Homo sapiens: one gene and its partner. The protein of the gene in region 1 purifies or fractionates together with the protein of each later gene. This does not show direct contact. Each region holds a gene or a part of one and is shown on either strand. Other genes may lie near its edges. The genes, in order: ACP7 and PDP2.

Region 1 (3,814 bases):
TTAAATGATATCATGTGTGTACAATAGTTGGCACAAGACCTGCACACAGTAAATAATGATATTAATAATAATACTCATTCCCGCATATAACCCTAAGTGTACTAGGTACTGTTTCACGTGCTTTATTTATATTTATTCATCTAAGCCTCATAACAACCATATAGGGCAGAGACTATTATTTTTCCATTTTACAGACAGGAAAACTGAGGCTCAGAGAGGTGAAGTGATGTGCCCCAGGAAAGCTCAGCTTAGAAATGGCAGAGCTGGCTCATGCCTGTAATCCCAGAACTTTGGGAGGCCAAGGTGGGTGGATCACCTGAGGTCAGTAGTTCAAGACCAGCCTGGCCAACATGGCAAAACTACATCTCTACTAAAAATGCAAAAATTAGCCAGGCATGGTGGCACATGCTTGTAATCCCAGCTACTCGGGAGGCTGAGGCAGGAGAATCGCTTGAACCTGCGAGGCGGCAGAGATTGCAGTAAGCTGAGATTGCACCACTGTACTCCAGCCTAGGAGGCAGAGTAAGACCCTGACTCAAAAAAAAAAAAAAAAAAAAAAAAAAGAAAAGAAAAGAAAAGAAAAGAAATGGCGGGGCTGGGATTGAACTTGGGCAGTTCCAGAACCTGTGTCCTTAACCACTAACTGTTCAACAGTGGTCAACGCCCCTCACTTTTTCTGCATATCCCTCCCACCCTGCCCAGGCTTCACTCCCGGTCTACCCTCTGTCCCTTTCTCCCCAGGTGAGCCAGGCTCCATGACTGTAACTTGGACCACATGGGTCCCAACCCGCTCTGAAGTGCAATTCGGGTTGCAGCCGTCGGGGCCCCTGCCCCTCCGCGCCCAGGGCACCTTCGTCCCCTTTGTGGACGGGGGCATTCTCCGGCGGAAGCTCTACATACACCGAGTCACGCTTCGCAAGCTGCTGCCAGGGGTTCAGTATGGTGAGAGGGGCCCCAGGCTGAGCTGTTGAGGAGGAGTGGGAAGAGGAGTGGGATGCAGACTAGAAGCTACCACTGGCCGGTGGCTCAGGCTGGGCTGGTAACTCCACTGCCTATCTGCAAGCCTGTTGTATGAGACCCCAGGATGAAAACGGAAGGTGCCGGGGAAGGCAGACCGAAGGGGCATGGGCCAGCCCCCACCAGTCCCCCCATCTCCTCCCCTCCACCAGTCGGGGAAGGATGGGGTTGGAGGGAGGGTCCCGGGGCGCCCCAGCTGACTGCGACCTTTTCCTCTCCCATTCAGTTTATCGCTGTGGCAGTGCGCAGGGCTGGAGCCGTCGGTTCCGCTTCAGGGCCCTCAAGAATGGGGCCCACTGGAGTCCCCGTCTGGCTGTGTTTGGAGACCTGGGGGCTGACAACCCGAAGGCCGTCCCCCGGCTGCGCAGGGACACCCAGCAGGGCATGTATGACGCCGTTCTCCATGTGGGTGAGGCATCCGCAGGGGCGCGCGCAGGGACGGTGGGGGGCGCGCGCAGGGATGGTGGGGGGCGCGCGGGTCGGGGGCGCGCGGGTCGGGGGCGGTGCTAGGACCGTGGAGGGGACAGGGCTGGGGCCAGTGTGTCTCTGAAGGGACAGGGGATGAGACTGGCTACGGAGACGGTGTCTGTGGCCAACCAGCCTGCCTAGGTTAAAATCCCAACTCTGGCGCTCTTGCCAGGAGCAGGGGTTTTCCCCCGTATATTTTGATTAGAGAGAAAGCTGGTTCCGAGTTCGCAGGACTGTTGTGATGACTACGTTAGTTCGCTTTGCCTCGCAGGGTGCAGGTGCACTTCGGTGTCCTTGTGCTGGTTATTATTATTATTGCTGCTGTTGTTATTTAAGAGGGGGAAGGGAATTAGATGGGTAATGGGGATTGGGGATTGTGTGCTTCAAAGTGCAGACTCTGGAATCAGGCTCCCTAGGTTTTATTTCTACATCTTCACTAGCCAGCTGTGTGACCTGGGGCCTCAGTTTCCCCATCTGAAATGGGAATAATAATAATAATACTCATCTTGGGCCAGGCGCAGTGGCTCATGCCTGTAATTCCAGCACTTTGTGAGGCCAAGGTGGGTGGATCACTTGAGGTCAGGAGTTCGAGACCAGCCCAGCCAACATGGTGAAACTCCATCTCTACTAAAACTACAAAAATTAGCCAGGTGTGGTGGCAAGTGTCTGTAATCCCAGCTGCTTGGGAGGCTGAGGCAGGAGAACCGCTTGAACCCAGGAGGCAGAGGTTGCAGTGAGCCAAGATGGCACCACTGCAGTCCAGCCTGGGCAGCAGAGGGAGACTCTGTCTCAAAAAAAAAAAAAAAAAAAAAAAGTGCCCATCTTGGCCCGGCACAGTGGCTCACACCTGTAATTCCAGCACTTTGGGAAGCTGGTTTTGAATTCCTGGGCTCAAGTGATACTCTTGCCTTGGCCTCCCGAAGCGCTGGGATTAACAGGTGTGAGTCACCATACCTGGCTCTCTCAATTCCAGTGAAAGCAGAGCTGGGCCTGGGTCCTCACCCTCCTTCCGCCCCCTCCCCCAGGAGACTTTGCCTACAACCTGGATCAGGACAACGCCCGTGTTGGGGATAGGTTCATGCGGCTCATTGAACCCGTGGCTGCCAGCCTGCCGTACATGACATGCCCTGGGAATCATGAAGAACGCTAGTGAGGACTGAGGGTGGTGGCGGTGGGCGAGGGCTGGATCAATGGAAATGGTCTCGTTCTTCTTAGTGTCTCCCTTGAGTCTCTCATGCTGCAACATTTCAATTGTGGTAGCAAGAGGAGATGGGGGTGGGCTGGAAGCTGGACTCAGGGCCTGACAGTGGCGGGGTATAGGAGTAGGGCTATGAAATTCAGTCCTTCACCTCCATCCCTTGTACTTCCTTTATTCCAGCAACTTCTCTAACTACAAGGCTCGCTTCAGCATGCCGGGGGATAATGAGGGCCTGTGGTACAGGTAATGTGGGGGTGCTGGGGGACTGGCCCTCTCCCCTGAAGGATGGGAGATGCAGGGGAGCCCTGGTCCCTGACCCCTGCCCTTTGACTCCTCCAGCTGGGATCTGGGTCCCGCCCACATCATCTCCTTCTCCACCGAGGTCTATTTCTTTCTCCATTATGGCCGCCACTTGGTACAGAGGCAGTTTCGCTGGCTGGAGAGCGACCTCCAGGTAACCTGGGTGGAGGCCCCTATAGTCCCCTGGCCAGCCCCACCTCCCCCTCCACCCCTGACTCCTAGCCCCTCACCCTGGGCCCTTCTCCCTAGAAAGCCAATAAGAACCGGGCAGCCCGGCCGTGGATCATCACTATGGGGCACCGGCCCATGTACTGCTCCAACGCAGATCTGGACGACTGCACACGACATGAAAGCAAGGTGAGGTCCCTCCCTGGGAGACAGTGGGGACATGCTGAAAGCCAGGTGGGCGTCAGTCTGCGTCACCCTCACCCGCTCATTCACCCTGCCCAGGTCCGCAAAGGCCTCCAAGGCAAGCTGTACGGGTTGGAGGATCTTTTCTACAAATATGGTGAGCGACCCTCAGGACCCATGCCCCACACCCCACCTCTCCCCAATTCAGAGGTCTGATCCCCGCTTGCTCTATCTCAGGAGTGGATCTGCAGCTGTGGGCTCATGAGCACTCGTATGAACGACTGTGGCCAATTTACAACTACCAGGTGAGGCACGTGAAGGGCTGAGCGCCCACACAGCTGGGGTCAGGGTGGTCAGAAGGCCCAGGCATGGCCTCGAGTGACTGCCTGCCACCCAACGTTGTTCCCTTCCCCAGGTATTTAACGGCAGCCGAGAGATGCCCTACACCAACCCGCGAGGGCCTGTCCACATCATCACAGG
Region 2 (3,814 bases), on another chromosome or scaffold:
TCTGATAAGTCTCACTCCTCCCTCCTGCCCACCACCTCTCAGGAAAGGATTCAGAGAAACTTGGTTAGAAACTGTTGTCCTTAAGCCTTTGTGTTTTCACCTCTCCAGATAGAGGTTGAATCTTAAGTCCACAATCCGCTAAATTAACCTGTCCTGTCTAAACGTCTATCACCACAACTACCACATGCAATCACATTTTCTCCTTTCCTGCAGCCATAGGAAGCAGGAACATGTGAAAGATTCTTTCAGACAATATTTTGCAGTTGGCAGGTGCAGGGTGAATGAGGGGTTCAGCATAGCAGAGGTAGAAGGATTGTGTGGAATTGACAGAAGAATGTTTGAGAGGTATAATCAGAAAGCTTAAATGCTGTGAATCAACCCCCAAAGGCTCAGCCCAGGAGGAAATTTTACTAATGCAGGAAAGGTCAGGAGTTAAGGCATAGACTAGTTACCTCCTAGCATGGCTCAAAGTTTCTGGAATGGGACTCAGTAGAGGGCACAAAAAGCTGCACCAGTAAGTTCAGCTGGTCCAGAGGCATAGATCCTATCAGCTGAAAACCAAAACAAGTCATTCCAAGCATGCTTACAGTAGGCGTGTTTGCAAGTTTAAGGATTCAGTTTTAAAATAAACGAAAACAGAACTAGAATGTAGTATTACAAAATTTCTCACAAGCATAATCACAAAAAAAAAAGTTAGGATATTGCATAGAAAAGGGTCCTGTAGTATGCTTTGTAAACCTAGACCTTAGTAATTTAAATAAAAGACAAACAAATAAAATATCTCTTCATAGTCTACAAGTCCATGATTGTGAATTCAGGAGAATTATCAAATTTGCAGATTTTTGTGGCAAGACCTAAGAAGCTCCTGAAGTTCTTTATTCTCAGAATCATGATTAAATTTACCCTTTGAAGGCTCAGGCTGACACAGTTTAACAACATCTTTATCAAATGACTGGGGCTACACAAGCCCAAGCCAATTCTATAGACTTTATGCTCTGTCCTCTCTGCATATAAGACTTAATCAGAACATACAGGGACATGAAATCACTGCTATTTCACTGTTTTTTAAAGCTAGGCTGTTTGTTTTTTTCCTCCTGTTAGTCTATTTAGCAAATTAAATCTGCCTGCGCTTTTAATAGTAAGGTTTGGATAGCTAGTTTAGGAGTAAGTGAAACATTTTAGAAGAGCATTTATGTTAACCTTGACAATAGGATGGGAGATTCTTAACCCCCCTTGTAATATGCACCGATTGATTCTGAGTTAAAATACACCACAGTGACAGTGATATCATCCCTGTACATCCTCGCCAAGTCCTCTGGCAATGTCAGCATCGCCGCCAGCCGCTCTGCCTCCATCTCCCCATACTCATTGTTCCCGATGGCATGTCTGATCAGCCGCGTGGCTGCATTTTGGTCAGCCTCGTGGAGCCCGCTGGCTTTCCTCTGCAGCAGCAGGCTCTGCATGAGCCCCAAGTTGGCGGGTCTCTGGGCCAGGTCTGTCTTGTGCCAATCTGCCTCAGCCAGGTGCCCCACCACCAGCCTTACCACGTCCTCATTGCTCAGCATGTCCCACAGGCCATCTGAGGCCAGCACAAGGAACTTATCCTGGGGCCTCAGCCTGTGGTATGTGACCTCAGGCTCAGCAGTCAGGTAGGGTGGAGTGTAGTAGTGTGGGGGTGTGAACTGGTAAATGTTGAGGGCCTCGGTATTGAAGCCCCTCTCCAGAATGCTGCGCTGCAACTCTTTACTCCACTTCAGCTGAACATCCCCAAAGGCCCTGCAGGGGATGAGGACGCCCAGTAGCCTGTCCTCCATGATGATCGTCCTGTCCTCTGACTCAGGGTGCTCCCTCTTTAGCCGGGACAGCTCGGCCTGGTTCCAGGCATTGTGGTCACGTGTAAGGGGCAGACAAGACCACATGCCATTGTCCTCTTGGACACCAAGGATGGCTCGGCAGTCACCAGCATTTGCCACGTGCAAGTGAATTCCATCAACATGGGCCATGCAAGCTGTTGCCCCAGAGAAAGCAACCTGGAGTGACAGGTTCCTTGTCACCTCATCTTCCAGGGGGGCCTGGATTTCCAGCGAGATGTCAGAATCCAGTCTCTGGAAGGAGTACATTAATGCTTCTTCAATGCTTAGTCCCATTTCCATGTGCAAATCAAGCAGTTCCTGCCAATAGACACGGAGGTGGTCAAGATGCACAGATGTGACATCCTTGTAGATACTGTCCCCTGGGTGCTTGAGCCAATGCAGGATGGGCAGCAAGGGTTTCATGCTTTCCATAGCTCCCTCCATGTGCTCCAGGGTCTGGTGGGACATCAGGGACACTGCCACATAGTAGAAGAGCCTCTCGCTCACTGCTTGGGCACATGCATGACCACCATGTCCATCGAAGATGCCAAACATCAGTCCATTGGTTTGCAGGCAGGAGGCTACACCTCGCCGGTCCTCCACTGGGGAATTGGCAGCCAGCTGGTTGCTCTCAAACCGCAACACTGAATTTGGGACTCTGCTTTCAAGGTCAAGAATCTTGTGGGTTGTCTCGCCAGCTCGAAGCACTTCATTTATCTGCTCAGGGCTGAGTTGCAAGTGAAAATCATCTTCCTCTGTTGATGTGTGTCTGTAGGCTTTGCACAGAGTAAAGCCACCACATGGGGAACTGTTTAGGGTGGGTGGCACCCGGGAAAAGAGCCTCCATTTTAATTTATTCCTATTTGAGACATACCTGGAGTATAAGCGTCTACCCCCTTGCAATGTGGCAATGCTGTTCCTTGTAGAATTTAAGATCCAGTAGGACACAGTACTTGACATTCTGAAACTATACCAGCAAATGTGTTCCTTCAGCAAAAAAGGATATTTTTAAACCTAAAAATTAAAAAGTTGAAGTTTCAAATTTAATTTCTTTTTTTTTTTTTTTTTTTTGAGACGTAGTCTCGCTCTGCCGCCCAGGCTGGAGTGCAGTGGTGTGATCTCTGCTCACTGCAAGCTCCGCCTCCCAGGTTCATGCCATTCTCCTACCTCAGACTCTGGAGTAGCTGGGACTACAGGCGCCCGCCACCACACCTGGCCAATTTTTTGTATGTTTAGTAGAGACAGGGTTTCACCATGTTAGCCAGGATGGTCTCGATCTCCTGACCTTGTGATCCACCTGCCTCGGCCTCCCAAAGTGCTGGGATTACAGGCGTGAGCCAAAGCACCCAGCCACAAATTTAATTTCTTAAAAATACTGACTTCTGAAAACATTTGCTAATATCCTGAACAAAAATGACTTAGAATAAACTATTTAAAATACACTAAACTCACTCTCACCAGCAGACTATAAGTGTTCATTTAAATATCTGCTTCGGGGGCCAGGCCTGGTGGCTCATGCCTGTAATCCTAGCACTTTGGGAGGCCAAGGTGGGTGGATAGCTTGAGCCCAGGAGTTCGAGACTAGCCTGGGCAACATGGTGAAACCCTGTCTCTCCAAAAAAATAAAAAAAATAAAAAAATTGCCAGGCATGGTGGTGTGTATCTATAGTCACAGCTACTTGGGAGGCTGAGGTAGGAGAATCATCTGAGCCTGGTAAGTTGAGGCTGCAGAAAGCAGTGATTGTGCCACTGCAGTCTAGCCTGGGCCTCACTAGAGAGGGAGTGAGACCCTGTCTCAAAGAAAACAAAAACAGGCCTGACGCGGTGGCTCACGCCTGTAATCCCAGCACTTTGGGAGGCCGAGGTGGGCTGATCACGAGTTCAGGAGATCGAGACCATCCTGGCTAACACAGTGAAACCCCGTCTCTACTAAAAATACAAAAATTTAGCTGGGTGCAGTG

Evidence for each region.
Region 2: the proteins of ACP7 (region 1) and PDP2 purify together in Homo sapiens (affinity purification with mass spectrometry; one large-scale study listed by BioGRID and IntAct). This does not show direct contact.

The regions. Positions count from the first base shown.
Region 1 is NC_000019.10:39,097,717-39,101,530, forward strand, and holds part of ACP7 (acid phosphatase type 7 isoform 1 precursor), read left to right. Parts: intron 1-741; coding exon 742-942; intron 943-1,243; coding exon 1,244-1,426; intron 1,427-2,510; coding exon 2,511-2,634; intron 2,635-2,863; coding exon 2,864-2,926; intron 2,927-3,022; coding exon 3,023-3,137; intron 3,138-3,232; coding exon 3,233-3,340; intron 3,341-3,433; coding exon 3,434-3,491; intron 3,492-3,571; coding exon 3,572-3,639; intron 3,640-3,749; coding exon 3,750-3,814.
Region 2 is NC_000016.10:66,883,284-66,887,097, reverse strand, and holds part of PDP2 ([Pyruvate dehydrogenase [acetyl-transferring]]-phosphatase 2, mitochondrial precursor), read right to left. Parts: intron 2,868-3,814; 5' UTR 2,814-2,867; coding exon 1,224-2,813; 3' UTR 1-1,223. UniProt on the Homo sapiens protein: Mitochondrial enzyme that catalyzes the dephosphorylation and concomitant reactivation of the alpha subunit of the E1 component of the pyruvate dehydrogenase complex (PDC), thereby stimulating the conversion of pyruvate into acetyl-CoA.